Linked DNA regions of Homo sapiens. The protein of the gene in region 1 purifies or fractionates together with the protein of each later gene. This does not show direct contact. Each region holds a gene or a part of one and is shown in the gene's direction. Other genes may lie near its edges. The genes, in order: SLC22A16, AGPAT2, SLC26A2, SERINC1, TSPAN15, ACSM1 and SLC25A30.

What was found.
Region 2: the proteins of SLC22A16 (region 1) and AGPAT2 purify together in Homo sapiens (affinity purification with mass spectrometry; 2 studies listed by BioGRID and IntAct, with this or other methods). This does not show direct contact.
Region 3: the proteins of SLC22A16 (region 1) and SLC26A2 purify together in Homo sapiens (affinity purification with mass spectrometry; 2 studies listed by BioGRID and IntAct, with this or other methods). This does not show direct contact.
Region 4: the proteins of SLC22A16 (region 1) and SERINC1 purify together in Homo sapiens (affinity purification with mass spectrometry; 2 studies listed by BioGRID and IntAct, with this or other methods). This does not show direct contact.
Region 5: the proteins of SLC22A16 (region 1) and TSPAN15 purify together in Homo sapiens (affinity purification with mass spectrometry; one large-scale study listed by BioGRID and IntAct). This does not show direct contact.
Region 6: the proteins of SLC22A16 (region 1) and ACSM1 purify together in Homo sapiens (affinity purification with mass spectrometry; 2 studies listed by BioGRID and IntAct, with this or other methods). This does not show direct contact.
Region 7: the proteins of SLC22A16 (region 1) and SLC25A30 purify together in Homo sapiens (affinity purification with mass spectrometry; 2 studies listed by BioGRID and IntAct, with this or other methods). This does not show direct contact.

What each region holds. Positions count from the first base shown.
Region 1 is NC_000006.12:110,438,614-110,442,113, reverse strand, and holds part of SLC22A16 (solute carrier family 22 member 16), read left to right. Parts: intron 1-1,820; exon of another isoform or gene 1,821-2,042; intron 2,043-3,266; coding exon 3,267-3,394; intron 3,395-3,500. UniProt on the Homo sapiens protein: Facilitative organic cation transporter that mediates the transport of carnitine as well as the polyamine spermidine. Mediates the partially Na(+)-dependent bidirectional transport of carnitine.
Region 2 is NC_000009.12:136,672,643-136,675,050, reverse strand, and holds the end of AGPAT2 (1-acyl-sn-glycerol-3-phosphate acyltransferase beta), read left to right. Parts: intron 1-243; coding exon 244-316; intron 317-1,123; coding exon 1,124-1,299; 3' UTR 1,300-1,908; downstream 1,909-2,408. UniProt on the Homo sapiens protein: Converts 1-acyl-sn-glycerol-3-phosphate (lysophosphatidic acid or LPA) into 1,2-diacyl-sn-glycerol-3-phosphate (phosphatidic acid or PA) by incorporating an acyl moiety at the sn-2 position of the glycerol backbone.
Region 3 is NC_000005.10:149,963,758-149,967,257, forward strand, and holds part of SLC26A2 (sulfate transporter), read left to right. Parts: intron 1-3,500. UniProt on the Homo sapiens protein: Sulfate transporter which mediates sulfate uptake into chondrocytes in order to maintain adequate sulfation of proteoglycans which is needed for cartilage development.
Region 4 is NC_000006.12:122,442,851-122,445,329, reverse strand, and holds the end of SERINC1 (serine incorporator 1), read left to right. Parts: intron 1-150; coding exon 151-286; 3' UTR 287-1,979; downstream 1,980-2,479.
Region 5 is NC_000010.11:69,499,965-69,503,464, forward strand, and holds part of TSPAN15 (tetraspanin-15), read left to right. Parts: intron 1-3,500. UniProt on the Homo sapiens protein: Part of TspanC8 subgroup, composed of 6 members that interact with the transmembrane metalloprotease ADAM10.
Region 6 is NC_000016.10:20,666,681-20,670,180, reverse strand, and holds part of ACSM1 (acyl-coenzyme A synthetase ACSM1, mitochondrial), read left to right. Parts: intron 1-190; exon of another isoform or gene 191-194; coding exon 195-354; intron 355-3,500. UniProt on the Homo sapiens protein: Catalyzes the activation of fatty acids by CoA to produce an acyl-CoA, the first step in fatty acid metabolism.
Region 7 is NC_000013.11:45,411,874-45,415,373, reverse strand, and holds part of SLC25A30 (kidney mitochondrial carrier protein 1), read left to right. Parts: intron 1-3,435; exon of another isoform or gene 3,436-3,500. UniProt on the Homo sapiens protein: Antiporter that transports inorganic anions (sulfate, sulfite, thiosulfate and phosphate) and, to a lesser extent, a variety of dicarboxylates (e.g. malonate, malate and citramalate) and, even more so, aspartate.

The sequences.
Region 1 (3,500 bases):
CTGCCAACCATATTATTATGATATCTCTTAGTGTTATGTTGTAACACATGTACATATGAGGGGACTTCAACCAGTTCATGGAAAAATGGCATTAAAAGACAAAAATTTAAAACATAAACTTTCTCAACATGATTGCCATCAAGGTCAAGACACTTTTGTACGACATCAGCCATTTATTCCATCCTTAAAAAACTGAGGGTCCTGAGAATGTACCCATGTCAATGCAGTCTTATTTACACTATTAACTGAAGAAAAATGGGTGCCGCGTACAGACTTTTTAAGATTAGGAAACAGAAAGAAGTCAGAATGAGCCACCATGAGAACTGTTAAGGTGGCTGCCTAGTGATTTCCCATCAAAACTCTTGCAAAATTGCCCTTGTTTGATGAGAGGAATGAGCATGCCCATTGTCATGGAGGAGAAGGACTCTCTGGTGATGTTTCCCAGGCATTTTTCTACAAAAGCTTTGGTTAACTCTCTCAAAACACTCTCCTCATAAGCAGATATTTTCATTCTTTGGCCCTCCAGAAAGCTAACAAGCAAAATGCCTTGAGCATCCCCAACAAACGTTGCCATGACCTTTGCTTTCGACTGGTCCACTTTTGCTTTGACAGGACCATGGCCCCCCTTGGTAACCATTGCTTTGGTTGGGCTTTGTCTTCAGGATCAGACTCGTAAAACCGTGTTTCATCTCCTGTTACAATTCTCCAAAGAAATCCTTCAGGATCTTGATCCCACTTGTTTAAAATTTCCATGGGAAGTTCTGCCCTTCTCTGCAGCTGATCTGGGCACAACTGTTTTGGCACCCATTGAGTGGAAAGTTTGCTCAACTTTAATTTTTCAGTCAGAATTCTGTAAGCCAGACTAATTGAGATATCTATGGTATTGGCTATTGCTTCTGCTGTTAATCTCAGTCTTTGTCAATTAGGGCATAAACAAGATGTATTTTTTTCCTCAATGTGGATGCTCTGCCACTGTGGTCTTCATCTTCAATATCGTCTTGTCCTTTCTTAAAATAAGTTATCCATTTGTAAACTGCTGATTTATTTGGGGCTTTGTGCCCGTAAACTTTTCATAAAGCATCAATGATTTCACCATTCTTCCACCCAAGCTTCACCATAAATTTGATGTTTGTTCTTGCTTCAATTTCAGCAGAATTCATGTTGCTCTAGTGGGAGCTCTTTTCAAACTGATATCTTATTCTTCTTAGTGCCTCAAACTAGCTCCTCTTCAGACACGTTCTAAGAAGTTAGTACAAATTTCTTTTAGTGCAGAAAAAATCTGAAAACACATGCATAGTTTTTTCATAATATGCACTTTCCATTAACTTTTTTTTTTGGAAAAGGAGTCTTGCTCTGTTGCCCAGGTTGGAGTGCAGTGGTGTGATCTCAGCTCACTGCAATATCCGCCTCCTGGGTTCAAGCGATTCTCCTGTTTCAGCCTCCTGAATAAATGATATTACGGGCACATGCCACCATGCCCAGCTAATTTTTATATTTTAGTAGAGACAGGGTTTCACCATGTTGGCCAGGCTGGTCTCGAACTCCTGACCTCAGGTGATCCACCCGCCTTGGCCTCCCAGAGTGCTGGGATTACAGGCATGAGCCACAGCACCCCGCCGTCCATGACCTTTTTGAAAACTCCTTGTATTTTCCATTTGAAAAAAATGCATCAGAAGAATTTAGTCTCTCCCTTTCTGCCTTCTCTCCTTGCTCACCTTCTTCACACCCATCCCCAGCCCAGAGCTCCTCCCAGGGGTAACTTCTATAATGTTTGGGTTGTGCCCTTTCAGATCTATTCCTATGCATTTGTGCCAGACATTGTGGCATGTGCCTGTAGTCCCAGCTACTCGGGAGGCTGAGGAGGGAGGATTACTTGAGCCCAGGAGTTCTGGGCTGCAGTACTCTATGCTGATCAGGTGTCCACACTAAGTTCAGTATCAGTATGGTGACCTCCTGAGAGCAGGGAACCACCAGGTTGCCTAAGGAGGGGTGAACCGGCCCTGGTCGAAAATGGAGCAGGTCAAAATTCCTGTGCTGATCAGATCTGTTTCTACGCATTTTCATATATTTGTGCATATTAATGTTTTATATTTTAACATAAATGAGATCACTCACTATATATTGTTCTTTGTAAGTTGCTTCCCTTTTAAAATTTAATATGCCTTGGCTATCTGGCACCTCTCAACCTTCAAGTGTCCTTAATTTATAAATTTTAGTTAGTAAAATAACTTTTAAATACATGCAACTATAATTTATGTTGTTGTACTTCTTTCATTTTAATGGCAGGTTAAATCACTTTAGATAGCTTGAGATGTGACTCCTAGTGTAAACCAAATTTAAACTAAAACGTGAGAGAAATATTAGAAACCTCTTTTTATCCATCTAGTCTTAACTCCTGCTTATTGCTGTGTAGGCTGCCTGTATTTTATATTATCCTCAAAACATCTTGCTTCTAAATTTTTATACGTAGACATCGTGCCATCTCATTAAAGTGCTCTGACGGCACATCTGGTTATTTTTTCTGATTTCCTCAGCAGACACATCCGTTTTTGTTCATTATAGCTCAGCAGGAATTATGAGAGAAGTCGTTTTAAGAAAAAAAGATTTACTCTTTTTTTTGAAGCAAACTAACAAGTTTATAGAAAGAGCCTGTCTTGACTTCAAACTCATTCTCTATGACAATTTGAGATGGTGCAGTATCCCTAGAACAGAGTGGCCAATGGTAGGTGGGGTGGAGTGTGGATGCAGAAGCTTAGGAAGGCTAGAAGTTTAGATCTTCATGACATAGTTTTTTACTTTTGCCAAAGACATAAATTGTCAAAAAACTGGGCAATCTCATAAATACAAAAATGTTTCCAAAGACAAACACACATGGTTTTATATTATCTACCGTTTTGGATTTTTCACTTGTACTCTTGCAGATGGGTGCTTCTGTTCAATAATTCTCGGCTGTGAAATTTTTGAACAAGTTTTTATCTCCTGAGACAGTTTGGGGCTGGTGGGAATTTGGGCTCTGGCTTTGTGCCATTTGCAGGTGCCAGGCGGATTATGAGCATTAGAGCATTTCACAGGAAACGCTCATCTTTACTGTAGTGAGTTTAAAAGTGGCGGGGCTGGCTGCCTCGCAGCAATTCTTAGAGAGTTTCTAAAGGCCCCAGAAGTGAGGAGAGGGCTGCTCATGCCTTTTGGGTAGTGGGTTAGAAGACGGGGGTCCCCTTTTGCAGTCGGGTACCTAGACTTATAGAGGGCTGCTTGCTCAATGACAGGTGTAGTGGAAATTCCCGCCTACACCTTCGTGTGCATCGCCATGGACAAGGTCGGGAGGAGAACAGTCCTGGCCTACTCTCTTTTCTGCAGTGCACTGGCCTGTGGTGTCGTTATGGTGATCCCCCAGGTGAGTTATCTTCTGTTTTTTATAAGACAGTTATACTGTGACAGTTTGATGGGAAGAATTTAGCTTATTACAGTTAAGTATGAAGGTCAATTCAGAGTATGATTTG
Region 2 (2,408 bases), on another chromosome or scaffold:
AGCTCAGGAGGGCTTCCTAGAGGAGATGAGTAAAAATTTGCAGGATGAGCTTATGGAACTCTGGGCCAACCAGAGCAGGACACATATCCCAGGTCCCAGGGGCAGGACAGCCACAAGGACCCATGGCAGCAGCGAAGGCAGGGGTGGGTGGGCCGCAGGACAGGGCTCCCCAACCACATGCAGCCTGGGGTGTGCCTGGCCTGTCCCCAGGGCTGCCTCAGCTGTGCGTCTCCCTGCCTGCAGGTGCCCATCGTCCCCGTGGTGTACTCTTCCTTCTCCTCCTTCTACAACACCAAGAAGAAGTTCTTCACTTCAGGTACCCCCACATGTGTGCACCCGGGGTGTAGGCCCCGCCTGACCCTACAGTCACGGAGCCCCGGGCCCCTCATCGTTCCCATTTCCGGGTGGCACCCGTGGCGTGGCCACACGGTGACCATGTGGCGAATGAGTGACTCAGGCTGGAGTCCCAGCTGTGGGCTTCATGGCCTCATGGCCCTGTGAGATGGGTGGTGCTGGGCCCATTTTTCAGATGAGAAAACTGAGGCTCCAAGAGACTTCACACGGATGGACCCCAGCTGTGCACACAGCTTGGGGGCCTGGAGGGCGGCCTCTGAGCCCATGTGTCCAGGCTGATGCCCGCATAGGGTAGATGGAACCCAGGCAGCCCAGGGGCACAGGCTGCGGGGCTCATGACCTCTTGCCCCTTCCAGCCAGTTCCCAGAACGTGGGCACCTGGTGCCCAGGCAGGACAGTGGGGTCAAAGTTGGAGAGCAGTGGGGGAACCCAGCTCCATCTCTCCCACAGCCCCTCGCCCCGTATGGAGGGCAGAGGCCAGGCAGTGAGGTAGGGGCTGATCAGGAAGTGGGGCTTTCTGGGGGCAGTAACAGGGGAGCGCAGACTTGTCGAAAATGCGGCGTGAAGGCCAGGCAGCCATGGGGTTTACTGCAGCAACGTTACTGCAATTAAAATAACCCACCACGGCTAGGGAGTCCAGGGGAAGAGCCCGGCCTCGGGCTTCCCAGGGAGGGGCTGTGGGGGGCTGGGGAGAGGCGAGGCCAGGGCAGCAGGCTGAGGTGGGCCCCAGCTCCCCACAGGCCACTGAGGTCTGTTGCTTCCCCCACAGGAACAGTCACAGTGCAGGTGCTGGAAGCCATCCCCACCAGCGGCCTCACTGCGGCGGACGTCCCTGCGCTCGTGGACACCTGCCACCGGGCCATGAGGACCACCTTCCTCCACATCTCCAAGACCCCCCAGGAGAACGGGGCCACTGCGGGGTCTGGCGTGCAGCCGGCCCAGTAGCCCAGACCACGGCAGGGCATGACCTGGGGAGGGCAGGTGGAAGCCGATGGCTGGAGGATGGGCAGAGGGGACTCCTCCCGGCTTCCAAATACCACTCTGTCCGGCTCCCCCAGCTCTCACTCAGCCCGGGAAGCAGGAAGCCCCTTCTGTCACTGGCCTCAGACACAGGCCCCTGGTGTCCCCTGCAGGGGGCTCAGCTGGACCCTCCCCGGGCTCGAGGGCAGGGACTCGCGCCCACGGCACCTCTGGGAGCTGGGATGATAAAGATGAGGCTTGCGGCTGTGGCCCGCTGGTGGGCTGAGCCACAAGGCCCCCGATGGCCCAGGAGCAGATGGGAGGACCCCGAGGCCAGACGCACACTGTCCGAGCCCTCTGCTCAGCCGCCTGGGACCCACCAGGGTGCAGCTGGGCTCCAGGGTCCAGCCCACAAGCTGCATCAGGCTCTCTGGGAGAGGAGGGGCCTGGAGGGCCAGGAGTCCCAGACTCACGCACCCTGGGCCACAGGGAGCCGGGAATCGGGGCCTGCTGCTCCTGCTGGCCTGGAAGACTCTGTGGGGTCAGCACTGTACTCCGTTGCTGTTTTTTTATAAACACACTCTTGGAAGTGGCTGGGGAGCTGTGGTCACTCACAGGGCGGGCAGGTGACCAGGGCGGTGGAGGCGACGCTGTGTCTTCCCAGCTGCCCTGCCTAGAGGCCCAGGGTGCAGGCACCGCCACCCACCCGTGTTCCCTATCCAGGAGTGGACCCACATCACCCTATACTACTTCCATCGATGGGTGGGGGTGTCGCCTAACGGGCAAGTGTGCCGGGATCCTCAGGCTACTGGGAAGGAGGCCAGAGATTTGCTCTTTGGCCTCTGGTTGGGGCCAACATGTCCCCAGGACAAAGCTCTCTGTGGCCTCACAGAAACCACCTGCCCACCCCCTCTGCCTTGGACCCCCTCCCCACCCCACGACTGCCCGCTCCACCAGGCCCCCTTTGCCAGCTGGCACCCAGCAGTGGGTCTGGGAGGGGTGGCCAGGAGGTGAGCGCCCTCCTCCCAGGCCCCCAGTCCATCCACTGACACAGCAGCTCACGTTTCATTTTTATTGTGCTGGGGGTCAGGCAG
Region 3 (3,500 bases), on another chromosome or scaffold:
TTTTTGTGGAGACAAGATCTTGCTATGTTACCCAGGCTGGTCTCGAACTCCTGGCCTCAAAGTGATCTTCCTGCCTTGGCCTCTCAAAGCGCTGGGATTACAGACATGAACCACTGTGCCTGGCCTCTGTTTTATATATTGTATCTAGGAAGGGACCGATTTATATAAGGTGTCATTTGAGGTTGGGCAATGAGCAAAGGCCCCAAGGGCAAAGGCTGCTTGATATTTTCATGGACTGGTGATTGGAACACTAGTGCATAGGAGGAAGCAAGACAGTGGCAGTTTTAGGCTCATGCATAGAAGCTTATACCAATGTTTTTAGACCATATTTGGTAGGAGATAGGGAGCCAGTGCAGATTTTTGGGGAGCATATCCAAATGGTTGACCTCATCTTGCTAATGAATGCTTCTTTTGAAGAAGAGGCATAGTGCTTTAAAAATGTAGGTTCAGGCTGGGCTCTTCCTTTGCTCATGCCTATAATCCCAGCAATTTGGGAGGCCGTGGCAGGCAGATCACTTGAGCTCAGGAGTTCAAGACCAGCCTGGACAACACGGCGAAAACCTGTCTCTACAAAAAATACAAAAAAATAGCTGGGCATGGTGGCGTGCACTTGTGATCCCAGCTACTCAGGATCGCTTGAGCCCAGGAGGTGGAGGTTGCAGTGAGCTGAGATCATGCCACTGCACTCCAGCCTGGGTAACAGAGTGAGACCCCATCTCAAAAATAAAAATAAAAAATAGCCAGGCGTGGTGGCTCACGCCTGTAATCCTAGCACTTTAGGAGGCCGAGGCGGGCGGATCACGAGGTCAGGAGCTCGAGACCATCCTGGCTAACACGGTGAAACTCTGTCTCTACTAAAAATACAAAAAATTAGCCAGGTGTGGTGGCGGGCACCTGTAGTCCCAGCTACTTGGGAGGCTTAGGCAGGAGAATGGCATGAACCCAGGAGGAGGAGCTTGCAGTGAGCCAAGATTGTGCCACTGCACTCCAGCCTGGGCAACAGAGTGAGACTCTGTCTCAAAAATAAAAAATTAAAAAAAAAATGTAGGTTCAATATTAGAGGAAACTGAGTGACCATTATACAGGAACTGTGTACTATTTTTACAGCTTTTCTGCAAGTCCACAGTTATTTCAAAATAAAAATTTTTTTTAAATGTAGGTTCAATAAAGTGTTTAAGGCTGAACTATGCCTGCAACTTTCAAATAGTTGAAAAACAATAATGACAAAACCCATATAAGTATGGAGAGAGAGTGTGTTAACATCTTATGAACTGTAAAATTGCTAAATAGGTGAATTGTTAGTATGGAAGTGTTCCATGTATCATTCTTTCAACTTTTCTGAAGATTTAAAAACAGCTTCAAAATAAGCAATCAAGCGACAGTATACGTTTGAATCAGGCAGGCTTGTTCAAGTCATGATTCCCCTACTTACAAGCTGTGTGTGGCTGGGCGCGGTGGCTCACGCCTGTAATCCCAGCACTTTGGGAGGCCGAGGCAGGCGGATCACAAGGTCTGGAGATGAGACCATCCTGGCCAACATGGTGAAACCCTGTCTCTACTAAAAATACAAAAATTAGCCGGGCATGGTGGCAGGCGCCTGTAGTCCCAGCTACTCAGGTGGCTGAGGCAGGAGAATCGCTTGAACCTGGGAGATGGAGGTTGCAGTGAGCCGAGATCACACCACTGCATTTCAGCCTGGGCAACAGAGCAAGACTCTGTCTCAAAAAAAAAAAAAAAAAAAAAAAGCTGTGTGAAGTATTGGAAAATTATTTCTAAACTACATATTCTAGTCTAGTTTATTTTTATTAAAAATATATTTTTAATTATTTTTTTTTCTTACACTGTAGCTCTTACCAGTCTAGTCTGAGATTTTTCCATATAAGAGAGGAGACTTACTTTGGTTGTTGACTTGTTCACATTAATGCTGGGTTAATGTTAAGACTTCAGGTTTTCCACAAACTTGAGATCTTTAGGTTGTTTTTAGGTCGACTCTAGTTTTCCTGTAATTATCTGATGTATATACACTTACAGAGACTGGCATAGGCAATCTATTAGAGGAAAAAGGTTAGGAGTCAGGATACTTGGGTTCTGGATCCATCTCTGCCTTTAAGTAGCAAATGATTTCACTAATCTGAACCTTTATTTATTTATTTTATTTTATTTTTTGAGACAGAGTCTTGTCTGTCACCTAGGCTAGAGTGCAGTGGCGCAATCTCAACTCACTGCAACCTCTGTCTCCTGGGTTCAAGTGATTCTTGTGCCTCAGCCTCCCAAGTAGCAGGGATTATAGGCATGTGCTACCACGCCTGGCTAATTTTTGGATTTTTAGTAGAGATAGAATTTCACCATGTGGGCCAGGCTGGTCTTGGACTCCTGAGCTCAAGTGATCCGCATGCCTCGGCCTTCCGAAGTGCTGAGATTATAGTTGTAAACCACTGGTACCCAGCTGAACTCTTATTTCTTACCAAAAAATCATGGCGGTTGGATTTCTTGATCTCTGTCTAGCTCTAAAGTCCTGTAATTCAGGAAAACTACCACTTAATGATTTGATCATTTAGTTTGAACTGTCTCATGGTTGGGACAGAGGGTTATGACTTGCCTGGAGTCCAGGGCTCCTGACAACAGGTTACTTTTTCTACTGACCCTCACTGCCTATGGTTTTAGATTGTGTTATGTGTTAAAAGCAGTTACTTAAACACACATACACAAACATGCATATCACACCATATTTACAACAGGTTGTGAAGCTCAGTTTTAAATGGCCTAGATTTCTTAGGAAAATCCCAGTACAGGTTGAGTATCCCTTACCTGAAATGCTTGGGACTGGCAGTGTTTCCAATTTCTGAATTTTTTTTTTTAATATTTGTTTTATACTTACTAGTTGAGCATCTCTAATCTGGAAATCCAAATTGCTCCAGTGAGCATTTCTTTTGAGCATCATGTTGGTGCTCAAAAGTTTCAGATTTTGGTGCATTTTTGATTTTGGATTTTTGAATTAGGGATACTCAACCTGTATCTGATTAATATGTCATCAAATCTATCCAATGAAGCTGTCATATTTTAAAACTAAATATAACTGTTTTTAGAAAAATATTACAAAAAGAAATAAAACCTTGCTTAGATACTTCCTCCCAAAGTTGTGTGTGTCTGGGGACTTAAGAAATACATTTCCCAAGGCTGCGTATCCAGAGTATTGGAACATTCAGTGACGATTTCTTAGGAATTGAAATATAAACTGCAATTGAAAACAAAATGACTTAGCTGGGCACAGCGGCGTGTGTCCATAATACCAGCTAATCTGGAAGCTGAAGTGGGGGATTGTTTGAGGCCAGGAGTTCAAGGCTGCAGTGAACTATGATCATGCCACTGCACTCCAGTCTGAGCAACAGAGTGAGACTGTGTCTCTTAAAGAAAAGAAAAAGAAAATTATGTAACAGGTTATATTCAAGCTACTCTTTTCCCCTTCAGATAAGAATTAGACTTTATAGCTTTATTGTAGT
Region 4 (2,479 bases), about 12 Mb from region 1:
AAGAAAGGGAGCAGATTAGATGCAGCAATGATATATCTGAAATCACAAACTGTATACAAAGCACGCTTCTGAATTAATGAAGCTTCATAGCTTGGTGGCTGATAATTCAACCCCCTTGCCCCTTTTTAATAATTTTCCCTGAAATTTTAGGTATGAACCCTCTCGTGAGATGAAAAGTCAGTGGACAGCTGTCTGGGTGAAAATCTCTTCCAGTTGGATTGGCATCGTGCTGTATGTTTGGACACTCGTGGCACCACTTGTTCTTACAAATCGTGATTTTGACTGAGTGAGACTTCTAGCATGAAAGTCCCACTTTGATTATTGCTTATTTGAAAACAGTATTCCCAACTTTTGTAAAGTTGTGTATGTTTTTGCTTCCCATGTAACTTCTCCAGTGTTCTGGCATGAATTAGATTTTACTGCTTGTCATTTTGTTATTTTCTTACCAAGTGCATTGATATGTGAAGTAGAATGAATTGCAGAGGAAAGTTTTATGAATATGGTGATGAGTTAGTAAAAGTGGCCATTATTGGGCTTATTCTCTGCTCTATAGTTGTGAAATGAAGAGTAAAAACAAATTTGTTTGACTATTTTAAAATTATATTAGACCTTAAGCTGTTTTAGCAAGCATTAAAGCAAATGTATGGCTGCCTTTTGAAATATTTGATGTGTTGCCTGGCAGGATACTGCAAAGAACATGGTTTATTTTAAAATTTATAAACAAGTCACTTAAATGCCAGTTGTCTGAAAAATCTTATAAGGTTTTACCCTTGATACGGAATTTACACAGGTAGGGAGTGTTTAGTGGACAATAGTGTAGGTTATGGATGGAGGTGTCGGTACTAAATTGAATAACGAGTAAATAATCTTACTTGGGTAGAGATGGCCTTTGCCAACAAAGTGAACTGTTTTGGTTGTTTTAAACTCATGAAGTATGGGTTCAGTGGAAATGTTTGGAACTCTGAAGGATTTAGACAAGGTTTTGAAAAGGATAATCATGGGTTAGAAGGAAGTGTTTGAAAGTCACTTTGAAAGTTAGTTTTGGGCCAGCACGGTAGCTCACCCTTGTAATCCCAGCACTTTGGGAGGCTGAGGTGGGTAGATTACTTGAGCCCAGGAATTCAAGACCAGCCTGGGCAACATGGTGAAACCCTGTTTCTATAAAAAATAATCTGGGCTTTGTAGCATATGCCTGTGGTCCCAGCTACTGAGGAGGCTGAGGTGGGAGGATTGCTTGAGCCCAGGAGGCAGAGGTTGCAGTGAGCCAAGGTCACGTCACTGCACTCTAGCCTGGGCAACAGAGTAAGACAAAAAAATATATATATATTGAAAATCAAAGGAGGCAAAATTTTGACAGGGAAGGAAGTAACTGCAAAACACTAGGCTTTAGTAGGTACTTATATAAAATCTAGTCCAGTTCTCTCATTTAAAAAAATGAAGACACTGAAATACAGACTTAAATAGCTCAGATAGCTAATTAGGAAATTTCAAGTTGGCCAATAATAGCATTCTCTCTGACATTTAAAAATAATTTCTATTCAAAATACATGCATAATTGATTTTACACCTCATTACTGGTGGATAATTTATGTGATGTGGATTGCTGGTGTCCAGCATGACCCATAAACAGGTCAGAAGAATGATGGAATGTTTTAGAATAAACTCCTGCTTATAGTATACTACACAGTTCAAAAGATGTTTAAAATGCTTTTGTATTTACTGCCATGTAATTGAAATATATAGATTATTGTAACCTTTCAACCTGAAAATCAAGCAGTATGAGAGTTTAGTTATTTGTATGTGTCACTAGTGTCTAATGAAGCTTTTAAAATCTACAATTTCTTCTTTAAAAATATTTATTAATGTGAATGGAATATAACAATTCAGCTTAATTCCCCAACCTTATTCTGTGTGTAGACATTGTATTCCACAATTTTGAATGGCTGTGTTTTACCTCTAAATAAATGAATTCAGAGAAAGTGTGTAGTGTACTGATTATTTAGCAGCTTAACTTTAGGTGGCCATAATAACATTTAGACCTTTCTTCCTATGTGAAAAAGGACCTGGCACTAGAAAGTAACTGCCTGTTTTCTGTAATGATAATTAAATTGCTTAGGAGATTGTTACCCTTTGGTTGTCTGTAAGTGACCCCAGAAGTAGGATCTCAAAGGTAAAGAGGCATTCTTCCCCTAAAGAGTCTTCAGTATATGGATCAGTTTAGTTTGGAGAATATTAATATATTTTCAGTGGATATTCTACATCTACTATGTCTTCCAGCTATTTTTTCTGGTTGCCAGTTTTGATGCTTGTCTTCTTCCACAGATACTTCAGATAGTATAAAAATTTCCCTTACTAAAAAAGAATGTACTTTTACTGATAAAATACTCCAACTCATGTTAGTTACCAAGCTTTAGTATATTTTATTCCATAATTCTTGTGAAGTGGTCTTTCTCCAACATTATCAGCAGCACAATGCCCA
Region 5 (3,500 bases), on another chromosome or scaffold:
CAGGCAGGACTGTGGGGCACCCTTGAGTGATGGACCATACAGGGCTGCATGGAAGAGGGGCACTCTGACTTGGTTTTACAAGAATCAGTCTGGCTGTTGTGAGGGACATGCTAGATGCAGGGATAGAGTTAGGGGCTGATATGCAGTGATCCAGGGGTCATAGGTCATCTTGTCCAGGAAGGTGCTCTTGGATCAACACCTGTGGAAGTGGGAGCCAGAAGCGGGATTGGGCAATGAAGGGAGTTGAGCAGTGATGCAGCCTCAGCTCAGTTCGGCTGGAGGCCTCAGCCACATCTATGAGGACAGCCCTTCAGAGTTGTCCCCTACTGGGGTGAGGGGGCCAGGCCTTCACACTCCCACCCACATTGACCAGGCATTGCATGAGTCCAGTGGTCCACCCAAGAAGGGACTTGCTGGCTCTGTTCAGCCAAGAACAGACTAATACAGCAAGAGGAAAGAGAGGGATTGATTGATGATAAGGAATTGGCTTGTGTAATTATGGAGGCGGGCAAGTCCCAAGATCTGCAGGGTGAGTCGGCAGGCTGGAGACCCAGGAGAGCTGAGGGTGGAGTTCCCATTCAAAGGCTGGTCAGGCTTCAAACCTAGGAAGAGCCAGCATTTCAGTTCAAGCCCGAAGGTAGCCAAGCAGGGAGAATTCTCTTATGGTCACTGAGGAGAGGGCAGTCTTTTGTTCTGTTCAGGCCTTCCCTGATCAGATGAGACCTCTCCCCCTTGGGCAGGGCCATCTGCTTTACTTAGTCTGCTGATTTAAACATTAGCCTCATGCAGAAACACCCCCACAGAGACACCCAGGATAATGTCTGGCCAAATATCTGGGTATCCCATGGCCTGGTCATGTTGACATATAAAATTAATGATCACATGAAGTAGTTATTGCAGGGGGCTGACACCTAAGGGCTCCCCACAGCATCCCTGCACCAGGGAGGGGAAGACAGATGCTTGGAGCTGGGTGGTGGTGGTGGTGGTGGAAGTGGCAAACCGTGGTGACATTCTGGCTGTATTTTGCAAGTAAGCCTACAGGATTTGCTCGCATAGCAGATGTGGGCGATGAATGAAAGAGAGAAATCAAGGAGGATACCCAGGTTTTGGTCTGAGCCACAGGAAAGACGGGGCTGCCACTGCCTGAGAGGGGAGGACTGCAAGGAGGCAGGCTGGGTGACCAGGAGCTCACCGTGGACGTGGGGGGTTTGAGAGCCTGTTCAGCATCCCATCAGGGGTGTCAAAGATGCGGTTGGATATAGGAGTCTGGAGTTCTGGGAACGACTAGGCAAGGGGTGTAAACACGGACATCATCTGCAGATAGGGTAGAATCTAAAGACAGCATCTGAATGAGAGCACTGAGGTAGGGAGGAGCCTTCCCCTGGCCGGGGTTATCTGACCCTGTGTTACACATGACCATTGAGTCTCCCTGTGCCACCACACCTGGATGATTTTCTCTAAATGTGAAACAGGGCGTTCGCTTCCTCCATAGAACTGGTTGATTTGTGTCCAGATCTATTTATTTTACACTGTACTATTCAACCTGGGATTTGAATGAGTACACGGGAAATATGTAGTGTAAAAAACTAAAATAGCATTAAAAATCAGGACTGTGGGAATTGTATTCTCAGATAGGAGGCCTAGATGATGGAGAAAAATATAAAATCCTGCTATCTAAGCCTCAGGACCTCATGGACTCACTGAAAAGGAGCTGAGCCTCGTGTCTGGTGGCTTGGAGCAGGGCTCCCCTACCTCCAGGCCATGAACCAGTACCGGTCAGTGGCTTGTTAGGAACCAGGTCGCACAACAGGAGGTGGGCAGAGGTTGAGGGAGCATTGCCACCTGAGCTACACCTCCTGTCACATCAGCAGCAGCATTAGAGTCGCATAGGAGTGTGAACCCTATTGTAAACTGTGCATGCAAGGGACCTAGGGTGCATGCTCCTTATGAGAATCAAACTAATGCCTGATGATCTGAGGTGGAATGGTTTCATCCCGACACCATCACCCCCCACCCCCCCGCACCCCATCCTGTGGAAAAATTATTTTCCTTGAAACCAGTCTCTGGTGCCAGAAAGGTTGGAGACCACTGGCTTAGAGTTTCCTGGCAACCAAAAGGAAAAGGGAGACATGGTCTGTTACATTGTTACTGTTCAGCAGAACATACCAGCAGAACATACCAGTTCTTCAGGGAAAGTAACCTTTTCCCTAACACTCAGCTTTAAAAGAAATGTCTTATATGAGCTTCCAATAGAGGATTTGAGCCATAGAAGTTCACATAGGGCTGTAAAATCTGGTTATACCAGGATATATCCCTCGGAGATGTTGGTGCAGAGGGCAGCGTGCTTCTACATTAAATGGCTCCAGACTGCTGTGCCTGCTGAGCTCTTGGGACCAATTTTCACGTACCTCCCCTCCCTTGTTGTTGGCTACCCCTTGGGGGCCTGTCGCGAAGGCCCCTCTCCCTGTCCCCATTAGCTGCTCAGTCTTTTCAGGGTGAGAGGATGCACACACAAACATTGCTGTGATCTTCTGGCTGCCCAGGAGTCCCCCTTCTGACTTCCTGTCCTGTGGCCCCGTGCAGGATGGAAGAGGCTACTGGACCCTGGTCTTGGGGCCTGTGAACTTCAGCAGAGCCTCTTGCAGAATATCGATTCTATGGTCAGGCAGGTAAACCCAGGCAGGCTTTACTTTTGGAAAGACTATGGATGCATCGTATCCCCTCACCCCTTGGTGAGGGGCTCTCCTGGCAGGGTGAGGTGAGTCCCCCCTGGGCCTGGAGAAGGGTTCTGGGCTCTGATGCCAGAGAGGCCTCTGCCAGTTGCCTGTGTGCTAAGAGACTCATCCCCCGAGGTCACCAGAGCTGGCCCAGTGAAGTCACTCTTGTCACCTCCCTACGTACCATGCAGCTTACCTATTTGTTATGTTCATTATCTCCCTTTCTACAGTGTAAGTTCCATGAAGGCAGGGACTTTGTCTTGTTGTTCTGTATTTCAAGTGACTAGAACTGGGATTGACATGCAATAGGTGCTCAGTTAATATTTGTTCAATGAACAAATGAATGAACCAATGAGATGGAAAGCACTCACTCCCATCATGTGCCCGTGCACCTGCTCTCCAGGCCTGACCCTCTCCATAGGGGTTGTGTTTATGGCCTGGAAGGGCCAAAAACACTGGCTGACTAATGCCCAGTGGGCACTGGGCATGGCTGGGACTGAGGCTACCTGGAGAACCAGCTAAACCGAGGGAGGTCGTCTTGCCTGCACATCAAGCCCTGACATTTAGAATGACCTAGATGACATCTGAGGCCCAACCCTCTCTCGGAAGGAGAGAAGACACCCTCCCTTTCCTTTGCAGGGGCTGGAATTGTGAACAAATCACGCCAGCCAGCATTCTTGTGCTCCTCCATGTGCCCAGCCCCGTGATAAGCACTTTATATGTGTATCTCACTTTATGTCCAAAACAGCCCTAGGAGGTGGGTTCTGTGATCATCACAACCTA
Region 6 (3,500 bases), on another chromosome or scaffold:
GTTTCAGTTGTACGTAATTGGGAAATATTTGGCAGTACACCTTTGAGACCTGGCCTGAGGGTGGTATGGAGCCCCACACAAATCACATGAACTGAGAGTGAGAAAGGTGGGTTCGTAGCTAAAAACCAGAGTGCACAGCCCTTCATCACATCAGCCATGATCACACAGCTGAGGCCACTGCATTTTGGAGTTAGTAGGAAATTACGGAGCCTGAAGACATCTGATGTCTCCTGGTGCCTGTCGGACTCAGGATGGATTGTGGCTACCATTTGGACCCTGGTAGAACCATGGACAGCGGGTTGTACAGTCTTTATCCACCATCTGCCACAGTTTGACACCAAGGTCATCATACAGGTAAGAAGACTCACCTTCCCCTATCAGCAAAATTCCAGAAAAAAATCCATGTTTCCTGGACCTTGCTAAAAAAATATTTTATTAAGCAAAGAAGCCCATGAGCCTAAGATGATCCTGAGCCTGGGCTTCTCAAAGTGTGATGCACTGAGTCTGAGTCACTATACCTGAGTCACATCAAAATGTGACCTTGAAGAAAATGTGTATTACTGGGCGATCCTTCAGACCTGTAGATCAGTCTTTGTAGACTTGGGACCCAGGATGTGCATTTTGAAAAATTAAAGCAAGCACAAGTCCAAGTCTCCCAGATCCTGGACCCTGATGCTGCCAGGGCCAAGCAGCTGGGGTGTGTGTGTGTGTGTGTGTGTGTGTGTGTGTGTGTGTGTGTTTTCTTACTCAATATGATAAAATGTTTAAAAACAGCCCTTGGAATATGACAGATCTAGCTTCTTATCCCACCTTTGAAATTAACTAGCAGGTTACATACCACTCTGAGCATCAGTTTCCTTATCTGCAAAATAGGTCTTTTAATAATTACTACCTCATAAAGTCTTAGGTAATATTAATGAGATGATAGAGGCGATATGTGTAAAGTACTTAACCCTGACATTAGCACATAGAAAACACTCTATCTGTGGGAGCTGCTGCTGCTATTGTTATGATGAGTACATCATGATGACAATTCAAGTCACCTGCATGAATTCTTTCTGTCTATGTCCCTTCACCCCAACATTTTCTTTATGTCTCCACTCACACCCTTGCTTTCCCTCTCAGAGGCAGACCTTGCCCTCCACCTCTCAAAATCCACCCGCTCTGCACAACCACTGCAGAGTTCTGTCTCCTGGCCTTGGATAAACAGCATTTCTTTATTAATCTTTAATCTACTATGCATTTTCTCCTGTATTTTCAGTCTCTCACTTTTCGCTAGTTTTACACCCTCAGTCCGTAAACATATTCAGTGTACTTATCCTAAAATGCCTTCCTTTGAACCTGCTACACACTGGGTCAACCCATCTTTTCCACCTTAATACCAAACTTCACCAAAGAACATCCTCCATTTGCTGCAGCCACCTCTGCTTCACCTAGCCTGCTCCTGAATACTGCAGTGCTCCAGTGGTCTGCCCTTACTGTTCTTCTTTCTAAGCAATTTCCTTCACCTCCATTTTTCTCAGCAAGCACATCAATGCAGGTGGCTGTCAGGACTGTACCTAGGGTCTAGTCTTCTCGGTCCAAGCTGATTCTCCCAGGCTAGCAAAACATTTCCAACCTGCTAGTTGGTAAAGCCCATCTGATCATTCCTCCAGAACATCAAACTGCACTTCCCATATCTCATTACCTACCTCTATATCAATGCCTCCTCCTGTGTCACCATCATTATTTTCTGTACCACATTCTGCACCTGAGACTTAAAGCACCACAAACAAGACTGACCACCCTTCCCATCCTCATGCCTAATTCTTCCGCTGCTATAGAGAGTGTCCCAAAAGGTCTTTATGTATTTTAAGCCTTAGTAAATGCTTAAAGTTTAAAATTCTACAAATTTACCAAAAAAGCATTTGCATTACTATTTCCCACTTACTATTTTTATGAATTATTCATAATAATTTTTAATTTAGATATTGTATTAGTCCATCTTATTGAAGACTAAAACAAAAAGTCTTTTAAATTTTTGATTCAGAGGGTGCATGTGCAGATTCGTTACATGAGTATATTGCATGATTCTGAGGTTTGGAGTAAGAATATTCTCATGACCCAGCTAGTGCATATAGTACCCAATAAGTTTTTCAGCCCACGACCCCCTCCCTGTCTCTCCCTTCTCATAGTGTCTATTGTTATCCCCAGCATCTATTGTTTCCAACTTTATGTCCATGTGTATTCAATGTTTAGTTCCCACTTATAAGTGAGAAAAAAATGATGTTTGGTTTTTTACTCCTGCATAAATTTACTTAGGATAACAGCCTCCAGCTTCATCCATGTTGCTGCCAAAGACATGATTTCATTCTTCTTTATGGCTGTGTAGTATTGCATGGTGTATATGTAGCACATTTTCTTTATACCAGTCCACCATTGATGGGCACCTAGGTCAATTTGATGTCTTTGCTATTGTGAATAGCACTGCCAATAACATATGAGCCTCTGTGTCTTCTTGGTAGAACCATTTATTTTCCTTTGGATATATACCCAGTAATGGGATTGCTGGGTCAAACGGTAGTTCTAAGTTTGTTGAGGAATTTTCAAATTGCTTTCCACAGTGGCTAAACTAATTTGCATTTCTATCAATAGTATATAAGCATTCCATTTTTTCCAAAGCCTCACCAGCATTTGTTTTTGACCTTTTAATAATCACCATTCTGATAGGTGTGAGATGGTATCTCACTGTGGTTTTAATTTGCATTTCTCTGATTAATGACATTGAGCATTTTTTCATATGTTTGTTGGATGCTTGCATGTCTTCTTTTGAGAAGTGTCTGTTTATGTACTTTGCCCATTTTTTAATTGGATTATTTGGGTTTTACTTGTTGATTTGTGTTCTTTGTAGATTCTGATATTAGTTCTAATTAGACATCACATATAAGAGTCTACAAATAACTTAAATTCTTTGTAGAATCTGGATATTTGATTCTGGATGTTGTCAGATGCATAGTTTGAAAATATTTTCTCCCACTCTGTAAGCTGTTTACTCTCTTGATAATTTCTTTTGCTGTGCTGAAGCTCTTTAGTTTAATTGGGTCCCACTTGTTAATTTTTGGTTTTGATGCAATTGGTTTTGGGGACTTAGCCATAAATTCTTTGCCATAGCTAATATCCAGAAGAGTATTTCCTAGATTTTCTTCTAGGATATTTACAGTGTAATGTTTTATATTTAAATCCTTACTCCATCTTGAGTTAATTTTTGTATATGGCGAAAGGTAGGAGCCCAGGTTTATTCTGCTACATATGGCTAGCCAGTTTTCCCAGCACCATTTATGGAATAGGAAGTCCTTTCTCCATTGCTTATTTTTGTTCACTTTGTTGAAGACCATATGGCTATAGCTGTGACTTCTCTATTGTGTTTCACTGGTGTATTTGTCTGTTTTTGTACCAGTACCATGCTGTTTTGGTTACTGTAGCCTTATGACATAGTTTGAAGTTGGGCAACGTGATGCCTC
Region 7 (3,500 bases), on another chromosome or scaffold:
ACCAATATTTTTTTAACAGCCCTTGGAAGATAGTGTCTGCAAAGTACTATCTAGAGGAAGGGTCATGTGATCCTTCAGAGAAACCTTAGTTTGAATATTTGGTAGCTTTGACCAGGGAAAGTTACTTTTCTTCTCTGAGGCTGTTTGCTTAGTTGTGAGATGTGGATAATGATACCTCTTTCATAGGACTGTGAAGAAAATGTATAGCAATGCCTAACAGCAGGTATTCAGGGATGACTGCTAGTGTTAGTATTATGTTCATAACGCAGCAAGGAGAAGTAAGGAATTACTGGGTTTTAGCATGGCTTAGAGAACATGGCTGTAAGAGGACTGTCAAATCAGAAGTGATCTACAGCCACTGCCCGACACTGGAATTTCTGCAAAGTTGTAATTCCTTCCCCGAGATGCTGCCCAGACACTATTGACTGCTAAGGACACATTAATCTCTCTAACTGTCTTGGCTTGTCAGCCTTGGGACTTCTGTAGATCCAGTTGGGATTTTTCCAAACAACTGTGTTTGGAATTCAAGGAAGTGTTTCACGAGACTTCCCTTCAGAAAGAGCTCCAAAACAAAGAAATGGGTTAGTTTACTGAACAGAGATTTCAGCCTAAGATACTTATAGCCCTGTCACAGCTTGCTGTGGCCAGTACAGCTTAGTGGACATCTACTTACTTATTCCAGTCCTAACTAGAACCGTTTTCGTGTGTGTGTGTGTGTGTGTGTGTGTGTGTGTGTGTATGTGTGTGTGTGTGTTTGAGACAAAGTTTCGCTTTTGTTGCCCAGGCTGGAATGCAGTGTCAAGATCTTGGCTCACTGCAACTTCCGCCTCCCGGTTTCAAGCGATTCTTCTGCCTCCGCCTCCTGAGTAGCTGGAATTACAGGCACCCGCCACCATGCCTGGCTGAGTTTTGTATTTTTAGCAGAGACTGGGTTTTGCCATGTTGGCCAGGTGGTCTTGAACTCCTGACCTCAGGTGATCCGCCCACCTCGGCCTCCCAAAGTGCTGGGATTACTGACATGAGCCACTGCGCCCGCCCCCTTTTCCTTATTTGGATGTTTGCCCATGTACTGCGGCTCTCTAGTTCATATTTAAGCCAAATTATTCTTTTACTCAGCAAACATTAACTTGATAAGTTCCAGTAATATTAACTGCTTAGGGATCTAGTCCTACCTTTTGGAAAGGAAGAGAAAGGCCAAAAAGTTGTTTTTACCTCCTGACTAGCTAACTTTTAAAAATCGTAATTGAATAGAAGTACTTGCTTATAGGATGCTGATCCAGGAGTGGACACTAATTTGTAGAAAAGTTTTATTGGTGGTACTTCTGAATGAATGGGCATGTGATTCATCCCATGTGATTGAAAACTATGAAGAAGCAATTCCATCACATTTTTAGCTCTAGTTAAGTATTTGCATATTAGTATTAACCCAGAGCCTCTGGATTTTAACCTAACCAACTGAAAACTTAATATCAAAACCGACAGAGGAAAAAGTAGCCAAATCTCATTAAAACTTAACTAGCTGGCCAGGCACGGTGGCTCAGGCCTATAATCCCAGCACTTTGGGAGGCCAAGGCAGGTGGATTACCTGAGGTCAGGAGTTCAAGACCAGCCTGGCCAACATGGCGAAATCCTGTCTCTATTAAAATACAAAATTAGCTGGGTATGGTGGCCCATGCCTGTGATCCCAGCTACTTGGGAGGCTGAGGCAGGGGAATCACTTGAACCTGGGAGGTGGAGGTTGCAGTGAGCTGAGATTGAGCCATTGCATTCCAGCCTGGGGGACAAGAGTGGGACTTTGTCTCAAAAAAAAAAAAAAAAGAGATGGAGTCTGACTCTGTTGGCTAGGCTGGTCTTGAACTCCTAGGCTCAAGCCATCCTTTCAGGAACTACAGATGCGTGCCACTACACCTGGCTTTGTTTTGCTTTTTAATCTGCAATCAGCTAGGTCTAAGAATGGGTTAAGGAAGTTAGTACTGGGTGGTAAATGAATTATTGGATTTATTATTAATAGGTTCTTACAGTCTCTTACAATCTTAACTATTATATGAGTTATGAATTTAATAAGGCTAAGAATTACTTAAGTGCAGTTATTAAATATTTTCAAAGATAATAGGGAGATGAGAGGAGTCTTTTGGGAGAGGGCTTGCTCCTTAGTACTGAAATACCTAAAAACATACAGTGGTTTTCATGTTTCATTCTTACAGAACCTTCTATTTTACTCATTTGTAACTGCTATGAATTTGGTTAATATCCATAAACAAGGAATAATGATTAATAGATTTATTCAAGGTGCCCGATGGGGGGTCCTAGTGTTGGAAACTGATATTCTGGGCAGTGGTGACTTGTGGTAGTCCTCTCCTGGGAAAAGGAGACTTGGGAAATTCCTAAACACAGGCAAAGTAAACATGTTGGCATATTGCTTGCCAATAATGACTGAAAAGTTAGAAATTTTATTTTAAACCAACAGTAGCTATAGTTGATAGTATATATACAAAAGTATTAGTCATATGAGTCTCCTGTTAAGGGGTGTGAGGCCACATTTACCAGCTCTAATTACATACAACTGCAGAACATGTCATGAATGTGAAAGGCCTTAGCTGTGGCACATAAGTACATGTCACAGTGAGCAAGGTCTTATTATGGAAAAGGAAGATGGAGGGCAATATTTGTGAGTGTCTTTAAAATATATATGGCTTAATGCCCACAATAGGCCTACAGCTTGACATTTATTTAACTTAGTGAATAAAAGTATGGATGTCCCCCTAATTGGTTGTGTTGCCTGCTGTGGTGATGATGGTGTTGGCGAAGAAGAAAACCGAGACTCAGGTTAGCAGGAACTTCTCTAGGAAGGGTGTGGGGTGGCTCTGACCCCAGAGTCAGCCTCTTTCCTCATGCCAAACTGCCTCACAGCTGGTAACGTAATAAGGCTAAGAGAAGTGAGCCGATATTTATAGAATGTAGACTACAAGTAGCCTGTGGTGGCTGGGCATAGTGGCTCTCACCTCTTTTCCCAGCACTTTGGGAGGCTAGGGCTGGAAGATTACTTGAGTCCAGGAGTTAGAGACCAGTCTACAAAAAATAAAACAATTAGGCTGGCATGGTGGTGTGTGCCTGTGGTCCCAGGTAGTTGGGAAGCTGAGGTGGGAGGATCACATGAGCCCAGGAGGTTGAGGCTACGGTGAGCCATGTTTGTGCCACTACGCTCTAGTCTTTGTGACAGGGTGAGACCCTGTCTTAAAAAAAAAACAAAAAAAGAAGTAGCTTGTAATTTTAAGTAATTGTCATTTTACCTTATGACACAAGTTTGCAACATTTGTCTGCTGCAGTGCACCTGAGGGATGTGATCCCCACCCCACCCCCCCACCCCCAGTAAGGACTCACTAAGATAGCAGTGAACGAATAGCAAATACTTTTTTTTTTTTTTTTTTGACACAGGGTGTTACTGTGTTGCCCAGGCTGGTCTTGAAATCCTGGGTTGAAACAATTCTCCTACCTTGGCC